Linked DNA regions of Homo sapiens. The protein of the gene in region 3 purifies or fractionates together with the protein of the main gene of each other region. This does not show direct contact. Each region holds a gene or a part of one and is shown on either strand. Other genes may lie near its edges.

What was found. Proteins that work in one complex are often made in the same cells at the same time.
Region 1: the proteins of PDIK1L (region 3) and TRIM58 purify together in Homo sapiens (co-immunoprecipitation; one large-scale study listed by IntAct). This does not show direct contact.
Region 2: the proteins of PDIK1L (region 3) and PDCD11 purify together in Homo sapiens (affinity purification with mass spectrometry; one large-scale study listed by BioGRID and IntAct). This does not show direct contact.

Annotation. Positions count from the first base shown.
Region 1 is NC_000001.11:247,867,187-247,870,686, reverse strand, and holds part of TRIM58 (E3 ubiquitin-protein ligase TRIM58), read right to left. Parts: intron 2,843-3,500; coding exon 2,820-2,842; intron 2,725-2,819; coding exon 2,624-2,724; intron 1-2,623. UniProt on the Homo sapiens protein: E3 ubiquitin ligase induced during late erythropoiesis. Directly binds and ubiquitinates the intermediate chain of the microtubule motor dynein (DYNC1LI1/DYNC1LI2), stimulating the degradation of the dynein holoprotein complex.
Region 2 is NC_000010.11:103,403,126-103,406,625, reverse strand, and holds part of PDCD11 (protein RRP5 homolog), read right to left. Parts: coding exon 3,341-3,500; intron 1,605-3,340; coding exon 1,443-1,604; intron 642-1,442; coding exon 518-641; intron 18-517; coding exon 1-17. UniProt on the Homo sapiens protein: Essential for the generation of mature 18S rRNA, specifically necessary for cleavages at sites A0, 1 and 2 of the 47S precursor. Directly interacts with U3 snoRNA. Involved in the biogenesis of rRNA.
Region 3 is NC_000001.11:26,121,824-26,126,055, reverse strand, and holds the end of PDIK1L (serine/threonine-protein kinase PDIK1L), read right to left. Parts: intron 4,220-4,232; coding exon 3,479-4,219; 3' UTR 501-3,478; downstream 1-500.

The sequences.
Region 1 (3,500 bases), about 220 Mb from region 3:
ACTCTGATACTGCTCATGAATATACTAATCCTCGTTCTTCTGGGCGTGGTGGTGCAGGCTCTATGGGTGGCCGTGACTCTGATACTGCTCATGAATATACTAATCCTCGTTCTTCTGGGCGTGGTGGTGCAGGCTCTATGGGTGGCCGTGACTCTGATACTGCTCATGAATATACTAATCCTCGTTCTTCTGGGTGTGGTGGTGCAGGCTCTATGGGTGGCCGTGACTCTGATACTGCTCATGAATATACTAATCCTCGTTCTTCTGGGCGTGGTGGTGCAGGCTCTATGGGTGGCCGTGACTCTGATACTGCTCATGAATATACTAATCCTCGTTCTTCTGGGCATGGTGGTGCAGGCTCTATGGGTGGCCGTGACTCTGATACTGCTCATGAATATACCAATCCTAATTTTTCTGGGCATGGTGCACTCTCCCACGGAAGGAGACCAGGGAATTTTACCCTAAAATATGGCACCCTGGTATGCCCATTATTTTAAATTAAAGGCCCTTGGAGACCATCACACACTGTAAGAAGCTTTATTCTAACACTCATTTATCTGCCTGAAGTCCCTGCATTTTAATTAATTTAGCTCATATTGCAGGAAGACAGACAAGTCTATCAATACACCTGGACAGACTTTAGTCACAAACCACTGTCTACTTTTCAACACTTTGTCCCAAGCCACTGTATGCACTCCAAGCCCAATGAATCCTCCAAAAAATCATTTACTATCTCCCTAAAATCATCCACACCTCCCCATCTCCCTTTCCTCCAATAAAGAAAGGTATATAAGCATCTGTATCCCACTGCGTTATTGGGTCATTACTCTCCTGCGATTCCACTGTGCTATGAATGTTAGACTTTTTCTATGCCTTTGTTCCTATTTGTCTTTGGTCAGTTGATTTTCAGCAAACATTCATAGGGAAAGGGGAAAGTTTTCCCTTGCCCCCTACACTGTCTCCTTGATAGTTTGACTTAGCCATGAAATCTCAGGAAGGCCAGATGCTCTAATTCAGCATGGGTACCTTTAAGAGGAGTGCATGAGTCACCATGCCTATGATACTGTGAAGTACGTATTTGGTCTACAGTGCAGGAGGCACCATACCTATGACACTGGGAAGTATATATTTGGTCTACATTCACCATGCCTATGATACTGTGAAGTGTGTATTTGGTCTATATCCTGTTTACTGACATACAGTTCTTAAAATCCTTGAAATTTCCAGAAATACAAGAGTGTCTTTTGTAAGCTAATAAGATGAATTGTGGTTGGTGATTACCCAGAAAGCCTCCCACTGGGTGTGGTTGCCAGGGGAACCAACCATGTGATTAGAGGCTTGAAACTTTCAGTCCTTCACGCCTCACCCCCCCCCACCTCTGAAGAGGGAGAGGGGCTTAAGGGTGGGTTGGTAAACCAATGGCCTATGATCTAATCAATCACGTCTACATAGTGCTTCCATAAAAACCCAAAATAACTGAGTTCATTGGCCAGGCACAGTGGCTCACGCCTGTCATCTCAGCACTTTAGGAGGCCGAGGCAGGCAGATCATTTGAGGTCAGGAGTTCGAGACCAGCCTGGCTAACATGGTGAGACCCCGTCTCTACTAAAAATATAAAAATTAGCCAGGCATGGTGGCATGTGCCTGTAATCCCAGCTACTCGGGAGGCTGAGGCAGGAGAATCGCTCGAACATGGGAGGTGGAGGTTGCAGTGAGCTGAGATGGCGCCACTGCACTCCAGCCTGGGCGACAGAGTAAGACTTCATCACACACACAAAAAAAAGAACTGAGTCCTGAGGACTTCCAGATCACTGAACACACGGAGGTTCCAAAGGTAGCAGGCCTAGAAAGGGCGTGGAAGCTCCGTACCCCTTCTCACAAACCTCGCCCTAAGAATCTCTTCCATCTGTTCATCTCTAGCCTCTGTAACGCCCTTATAATAAATGAGTAAATATGTGTCCCTAAGTTTTGTCAGCTGTTTCAGGAAATTAAGTGAACTCAAGAAGAGGGTTGTGGGAACCCCAGTTTACAGTCAGTTGGTCAGAATCACAGACCACAACCTGTGCTTGTGACCAGCATCTGAAGTGGGGTCAGTCTTGTGGGACAAAGCCCTCAACCCGGGGAACCTGGTGCTATCTCCAGATAGATAGTGTCAAAATCAAATTGCATGGAAGGACATCTGGCTGGAGTATCTGCTGGAGAACTGATTGGCTGTTTGCGGAGAGAAATCCCCACACATTTTGGTGACCAGAAGTGATGTGTTGTATTGACTCTGGAAGAGAACTTCTTCCCCCATCTCTTCAATAACCCTGCCCTTTTCTATGGCTCCCAGCACCAAGAGGGAGGTAGAGCTCTGTCAGTATGGGTACCAGAGTGAGAAGATGTGGCACAGAAGTCCCCACACCTAGGAACAAACCAACAGCACACTCTCAAAATAAATTTCTGCTGATCTGGGCCACTAAGACTTTAGGTTCTGTTGGTCACTGCAGCTGACTGGCATAGTGACAAACCACAATACGAGGCAAACCCCAGGCAGCCTCATTCCCAGTCTCTAAGATGCAACTACCTTGGAACTTCTTCAAACCCCAGGCAGCCTAATTCCCAGTCTCTAAGATGCAACTACCTTGGAACTTCCTTAAGAGCTCCCTCCTCCCAGGGATGCAGCATGCTGTCTTCAGTTCCATGGGGATGTTCTCTGCTTCCAGCCTTGTGACAGCCTTACTTCTGGGAAGAGCACAGAAACCACAGAAGTCAGCAGGGTTCTCCACCAGCTCCTCTGCCTCTCCCAATCCCTTCACCAATTCAGAAAGCACACATACCTGCTCAGGACTCCTCTCACACCCTGAAAAGGAAAGAAAAACACAGTGTGAGTTGGACTCTGAACTGCTTTTCACAGTCAGACTGAAGACCCCATAAAAATTTCCTTAGAAACTACTGCAAAACATTATTGAGATAAAATTATAGGGGACAATAAATCTCTTTTCTATTTTTTTTTTGAGATGGAGTTTCGTTCTTGTTGCCCAGGCTGCTGGAGTGCAATGGCGCAATCTCGGCTCACTGCGACCTCCACCTCCCTGCCTCAGCCTCCCAAGTAGCTGGGATTACAGGCTCCCGCCACCACGCCTGGCTAATTTTTTTTATTTTTTTGTATTTTCAGTAGAGATGGGGTTTCACCATGTTGGCCAGGCTGGTCTCGAACTCCTGACCTCAGGTGATCCACCCACCTCAGCCTCCCAAAGTGCTGGGATTACAGGCGTGAGTCACCACACTCAGACAAATCTCTTTTCTTTAAAGCTATACAAAGTTTAGGTTAATTCCTGCAACACCTATCAATTTAATTATCTTCTGAATTAATAATTCTGCTACTTGGATATTGTAACAGAGTAACATTCTGCATGTAATTCAGACGGAACAGGATAAAATAGATCCTAAGTACTCATAGAATTTATTTGAGGGGCATGGATAGGTTCCTCAAATAAAGACACAAAATGTTTCCCTAA
Region 2 (3,500 bases), on a different chromosome or scaffold from region 3:
CACCTTTAGTTTAGCACCTGTAAGCCCAGACCCAGGCCCCAAAAGGAAAAATGTATCTATGAGAAGGACTTTTAACGTGGGCCCAAGTAATACCTGAAAAGACCCATGGCCTACCTGCCCAGTTAGCATCAGTTACTCCCCAAATTCCCAATCTTTAAGGGGCCAACTACAAGAAGGAAACGAAGTTATCCTAATTGATCTGGAATTCAATTACCACACAAAAATACACAAGCCAGGAGACTGCTGGTTCAGAAGCCATGGGGGCCCTAATTGCAGTGGAATCTTCCAGGTTAGAAAAACTGACACTGTTCCATCAGATCTTAGTGAGACCTTACCACTCGCTGGCCCTTCATACATCTTTCCTTTCCTATTAACTAGGATTAAGTGCTGGTTTTACCAAAGCCACAGCACCTTCAGGGTCACCATTCTGTCATGTTACTCATCAAAATGGCACTTAAATATAATCCCCACATGTACCACCTCACCACCATGTACTGGCCCCTTTTCTTGCCCTCACCTTTGTTCTTCTGTCTGATGTACTCCTGGGCTTTCAGCAGTGGCAGAAAAGCTCTGGTCCCATCAACACCAATGTCCACTAGGTAGCCATGGTCTTCCAGGCTGGATACGGTACCTGTAAGTAGCTGGGGAAGAGAAAGTAGTCCCAGAAGTTCCAATTCAAAGGTAATGGGACACACACAAAACATCCAAACTTGAATGTTCCTGCCACTAAGCTCACACTCTGCCACTATCCCACTCCCACATTAAACCTTAAGCCACAATCCCACTAGACAGCAGACATCAAATTCAACACTCCCAGGCTTGAAGGAGCTGATGGTTGCCAGGCAATGAGGAATGTTTAACACAGCTGAATGATGGAACAATATAGAAGAGTCTCTTGCCTCAAGTGGTTTCAAAAGATAGCAAACTTTCGGCAGGGCACAGTGGCTCATGCCTGTAATCCCAGCATTTTGGAAGGCTGAGGCAGGCAGATCACTTGAGGTCAAGAGTTTGAGACCAGCCTGGCCAACATGGTGAAATCCCGTCTCTATTAAAAATACAAAAATTAGCTGGGCATGGCACCTGTAATCCCTGCCTCAGGAGGTTGAGGCAGAAGAATTGCTTAAACCCAGGAGGTGGAGGCTGTGGTGAGCCGAGATCATGCCACTGCTTTCTAGCCTGGGCAACAACAGCGAAACTCCGACTCAAAAAAAAAAAAGAAATTTGGACTTGCTTTCTCTTTTCTCTTCTCCAATGTAATGATTAGGTTCAAGTCTTCAATGTCCATTAAGTGCCCAAAGAACCCAAGAGACCTTCCTTCCAGAAAAAGAACCACTCCTATGTGTCACAATTGAGCTGAAAGTAAAAGGTGGCCTAGACCACGCTCCCTCAGAGGCAGAGAGAAGGCACATTGCCACTCTTCCTCCCCGACCCTAGACACCTACCATGCCAGGCTTCAGGGCCTCAGCACTCAGCACTCTGTTGACATTTTTGGGGTTCAGAGACAGCTTGACACTCTTCTTGCCCCTGTCTGTGATGCCCAGACTGCTCACCACACATCTTACCAGCATTCCAGGTGAGAAAAGTTCAGGCAAGTGAAGTAGGTCCTGCATAACACAAATGAGAAAGACCTGATATACACCCTTCTCCTGAACCAAAAATCCATTACCCAGCTTTGGCTCAGTGACTTCTCATCCTCAGACCCCAGAGAACCCAAAAGGTGGGTGAGGAATAACCCCCCATCCACAAAGGAAGTTGGGTCTGTGGCCTAGCCACAGTCTTGAATTTCAGCATAAGGCCTTCAAATATTTCCACATAACTGGCATGTAAAATGACTTGTCAAAAGAGTTGTCTACACTTTCTGCCTCTACTTCATCCCTTACTCATTCTTCGGCTCACTGCAATCTGCTTTCCACCCCTCTCACTCCACCACTCTATCTCCCATAGAATCACCAATGAGTTCCATATTGTTAAATCCAGTGGTCAGTTTTGCAGTCTATCTCTTACATGACCATTAAAAAGCACTTGAGGGTCGGGTGTGGTGGCTCATGCCTGTAATCCCAGCACTTAGGGAGGCCAAGGCGGGCAGATCACCTGACGTCAGGAGTTTGAGACCAGCCTGGCCAACATGGTAAAACCCTGTCTCTACTAAAAATACAAAAATTAGCTGGGTGTGGTGACATCTGCCTGTAATCCCAGCTACTCAGGAGGCTGAGGCAGGAGAATTGCTTGAATCTGGGAGCTGGAGGTTGCAGTGAGCTGAGATCATGTCACTGCACTCCAGCCTGGGCTAAAGAGTGAGACTCCATCTCAAAAACAAACAAACAAACAAAAATCATAGGTCAGGCATGATGGCTCACACCTATAATCCCAACACTCTGGGAGGCCGAGGCGGGTGGATCATTTGAGGTCAGGAGTTAGAGACCAGCCTGGCCAACATGGTGAAGCCCTGTCTCTACCGAAAATACAAAAATTAGCTGGGTGTGGTGGCTGGCACCTGTAATCCCAGCTACTGGGGAGGCTGAGGCAGGAGAATCACTTGAACCCAGGAGATGGAGGTTTCAGTGAGCTGAGATCATGCCACTGCACTCCAGCCTGGGCAACAGAGTGAGACTCTGTCTCAAAAACTGAAAAATCATGATCATCTCTCCCAATCCAGGTCCCCTTCAGGGTTTCCTATCTCAGGATGTCATGACCAAGCATCAAATCATGCAAAACAGAAACCTAGAACTCAGCCCTGACACCTCTATCTGCCCCACCACCCATATTGAATCTATCACCAAGCAATGACTTTGCCTCCTCAGTCCTCAGGAAATCCTGAACCCAGGTCACCATCAATCTCAGGACGTGAACGACTACAAGAGCCTCCTAACTTGTCTCTAAGCAACTTCTCATGCCTCTTCAATCTACACGTTATGCTGTACCCCAGTGAGAACATTTCAAGGACTTCCCATTGATTCTAGAATTTAAAAACAACCCTTAAAATGGTCTACAAGGCTGCATGTGCCCTGGCCCCCATTCAGGCTCTCCTGCCCATCTCACATCACACTCTCTCTTGCTCTCCTTACCTAGCCATACTAGCCTTCTCTCTGTTATATATTACATTGCTTCTGCCTGAACGCCTTTCCTTCTTTATCTAGGGAACCCTCATTCTTTAGATCTCAGCTTAAGCATCCCTTCCTCAACAGTCTTCCAGGCTCCCAGACTTAGTCAAAAATTCCTTTATGATAAACTCTCACGGGACCTTGTACTTTCCCTTCTTAGCACCTGGCAAAGTTGTAATTTTAAATCTATTTGTGTTCCACTTATTTTCAATAACAGGCTTCATTCGGATTTCCCTTACCTTCAGAGGTTGTTCTTGTGTCACCTGCTCATTCAGCTTTTTGGTGTAGGCATCACAGATTTCAGTGACTTGCACAAAGCCCTGGAGGCCATTGGGGAGACTAATCACCAGTTCCAGTTCATTCACCTCTTTCACGCAACCCAAAATACGCATTCCCTCA
Region 3 (4,232 bases):
GTCACATGTAGAGTTGTTTTCTGTCTTCCATATTCTCCTCTGCTGTTCCATTGGACCACTAAATAGACTGTATCTTCAGGCAGAAATGATAAACATAAAAAAGTGGGCCCAAATTTTTAATAGAAAATTAAACCATCGTCTCAAGTTATAGATTGAAAAACTGCATCCTCTCATTTATTTAATATATATTATGCTGAGTCTGAGCTGCATCCTCAGCTTAATGAAACAGAAGGATAAATGAATAAAAAATTTCATCTCTGGCAATACGAGTTCTTCTTGTGTGCAAAGCAAATACAGCAAGACAGCACTAAAATTTCAGAGAACTTGAAATGCTGAAACTCCTATAATTCAATCATCTTTTCCTTGGCAATCACTTCTATTTCAGAATCATTTAAAAGGTAAGTCTGAAAAATACATTGTTTCAGATTTTATACCTTCTATTTTATGCTCATGAAGTAAAGTACTACAGAACTACTCACAGAGCCACTAAAGCAGCAATGTAGAATTTTCAGTTTTTTTTTTGTTGAAACTCACTTTATTTAAAAAAAAAAGTCATGAACAATAAATTACAATCATTTTCCCCTTTTATAAATTCTTCATAAAATATATTTGACAATTTTAACAGAAAATTTCAAAAGTTGCTTTCATTTCTTAAGTGCTGATGACTTATTTTTTGACCATTTTGTCATGCTGGTGAATTACTTTGTAGCTGCTACAATAGTTTGATTGATAACAATTTACAATTAAAAACAACAACAACGAAGAGAAAAAACAGACCAGCAGAAAGAACTATTCTGTGTGCTATTTATCTGACACTTAACACTTACTTCATCATAATGACAAAGTATCCCTTAGCACCAAAAAATCTACAGGAACCCCATCTTTCTAAGTGACAACTAGTGCAAAATAACATTCTAGGAACTAACTGTACAACCCCATATTTTCACTGGCCACAGCTGCCTATAAGCTCATTTGAAATATTTGGTCTTTTTTCAATTAAGACAAATTTCAAAAAACACCATAAATCATGGCAAAAGACTCTATGAGGAACAATTGCTTATTGAGTACCTATTATGGGCAAGGCACTGTGTACGAAGTTTTGCTTTCATTTTTCCTCTAGCAAATATCCAGGTATTTCCAAATATCACTAACCATCTTTTCTTACTCCTGGCTGAAAAGGCCTTTGGCTAAATGCCATTTTTTAATTGTCATTTTATCAACAAACCTTTAGTGCTGAGCACACAGTAGGTACTTAATAAATACCTCTGACTGAAAGAACAAAGACAAAGAATTTACTATCATTTTGCTTGGCTATTTTAGAATACAAGGACTTGATAAAATTCCAGAAGAAACTTCCTGATCACCTCATACCCTTACCCCCAATGAAAGAATTTCACTTCACAGGTAAAATCTTTCCAAGTAAATGATAATCATTAACTATTTTACATGAGGCAGGACCAAAAACTATGCGCTTAGGAAACTGTGGCTCCAAGCACATAGATATTTGAAGAGCAAATGATGCATGGGCATACCATCATCTATGAATCTCTGCTGAAGTGCCATGTTATTGACTAGACGTTATCATGATGCTTTTTCTTACTCCCTATAGCTCAACTTCCTTGGACATATCTGTTAAATTAAACTAATCTGGTGATCCAGAGGGTCAATTATCATGAGGTTCCAGTGTGTTTCCACCTCTAATTTCCAAAAGAATTCTTATATTTATTAGCTTAAAAGTGATGTTAAAAGTATATGATTTTTCATTTTAAGAGGCTTTATTTCAATAAAACCTTTTAGTCCAAATTTTAAACTTCCAGATCAAGTAACTAACATAGTCCAGAAATTTTATGTACTGCAATTTTTTTTGTGATGTTTTACATTCTATTTCCTCTGAACACATTTGAAACAGGGAAAAAAATTATGACATATTCCAAAAATTGTGGAAGTTCAAAAAAGCTGAGATTATGAAAGCTATCAATAATTTCAATATTCTAATACTATTTTGACTTTTGACCAAAAATTCTAGTGCTTTATAAAGATTAACTTAGATACAATGTAAAGTCTATTTAACCTTAAAGGCTAATGTTCTGTTTTAGGAAAGCATTCTATCCTTTAGATTTTAACTATCTGCATTTACAGGAAAACAAATTGTAGACAACCATACAAAGATAAAATCAAACTAACTTCAAGAGGAATAATGGTCTGTTGGTTTTTTGACATAGACTGTATCAGTGATTGTATAAAATGGATAGCTTTTCTACTTTAAAAGTAGTTGATGCCACAATATTTTATCCATTTGCCATACTGTGTATGTATCTTCTCCCACTTTAGATAAAGGTGATCACATTTTCAACAACCATATTATTACCAGTACTGTTTCAAATCAGACAAGAGAAAACAGCATCAGTGCCAAAATGAAAGGAACTCCAGTGACTCAACAAGTGATCATATCAGGGCAGGCAAAGTGAGGGTGGAGCTCATTTGGTTTCTTCAACTTCAGTATAATGAGGCTTAGACAAAGTCTTCAAACCAAAAATGTATCAAGTATTACAGTTCACACATAGCAAAGTTTTCAAACAGAATAATCCTGTATTCAGATTTATATCAGATTGTAGAAGCTCAAGTGCAGACGTCCCAATGCAGTGGTATAGTTGGTTAAATAAATGCTCGGTTACCTAAAGAAGGTCGGACTGAATCACCAACCTGCTGCCATATGACTGCATGACTAATTCAACTCTTGCAGCTATAGGGCACTGGAGAGTTCAAACATACTTCAGCAGCTTTGGATCACTTAATTTCATTTGTTTTACCAGATAATTTTAGACCCTCGAAAATGATGCCTTAAAAAAAAAGCTGTATATTACAAAAAAAAAAAAAAACAACTTAATATGATTTCATTAGGGGGAGGGGCAGAGTAGGAAGATAAGGGAAGGTTTATTTTTCGTCACTGACTTCACCAGCAAATCTCAAAAACCCAAACCTACATCAAATAATTTAAACAGACGTGGCATTTTTTTCATATGGAATGCAAAATGCGCACATTCACATACTTACATATACATAAATATATACATATATGTTTCCTTTACAAAGTTTCAAAGGTTGCATTACCAGCATGCAAACCTCTTTTCCCATGGAAATTCCTAATACTGACGAGGAATGTCTAAAATACTTAAAGACATATTTCCAGAAAACTGGACTCTCTTCTCTTGTTAGCTCTTAAAGAATTTTCCTGCCAAACTTCTATCAATAATCATTTTTTAAAAATTTACACCCACATTGGTAATACACATTTGAAACATACTAATAAAACGGCCAACTTGGATTTAAGAAAAATGAGGAAAAAAAAAATCCCACAAAAAATCTAAACCCTTAGAGGGTAGAGTCTAGCTTTTTATATTCTTTTTCAGCCACATAATGTTGCATCACTGTTAAACAGAAGCAGCATATCATCCATGGTATTTGCAAATAATATGTGTCACGTTTCCCAGCTGCTATCTTTAAATGCAATTTGTACTAATCTGAGTTCTAGTTCAAAAGCATCTGGACGATCCTGAGGGTTTGCAGCCAGCATTTCCTTAATCAGTTGTTTCATTCGCCCATTCATAGATTTTTTCTTCACAGGAATGAGAAGTTCCATTTTGGGATTTTCCAGAAGTGCCTCCCCAACAGGCACAATCTCAGTTCCTTGTTTTACATAACTCCCCAAGAGTTCCTTCTTTGTCTCTGTGTCTATGAATGTGATCCTTTCCAGCATTGCCCAGATGATAATCCCCAGAGCAAAGATGTCAGCTTTTGCTGTGTAATGTCCTTCCCAAACTTCAGGAGCCATGTAAAAATCTGTTCCACATGCTGTGGAAAGGAAACACTTGTTTACACTGACAGGTTCTTCTGGGTTCTGCCCAGAGGCTGAACAAACTTTACTTAGACCAAAATCAGCCACTTTGAGGGTAGGTTCCAAGTCACTGGTATCCAACCTGGTTTGAGAAATCAGGATGTTATCAGGCTTAAGATCTCGGTGGATGATCTGGTTTTTATGCAAGAAAGCCAGGGCACTGCTCAGCTGAAGCATGAAGCTGGTGTTAGTTTTACGATTGGGTTTCCTGGACAACAGATACTCATTCATATCTCCTCCGTCACAAAAATCCATCACAAACCACAAATAATAGGCGCTTCTGGGATCAAAGGCAATTTCTCCTTTTAATGAAGTTTCTACAAGCTACAAGAAGGAA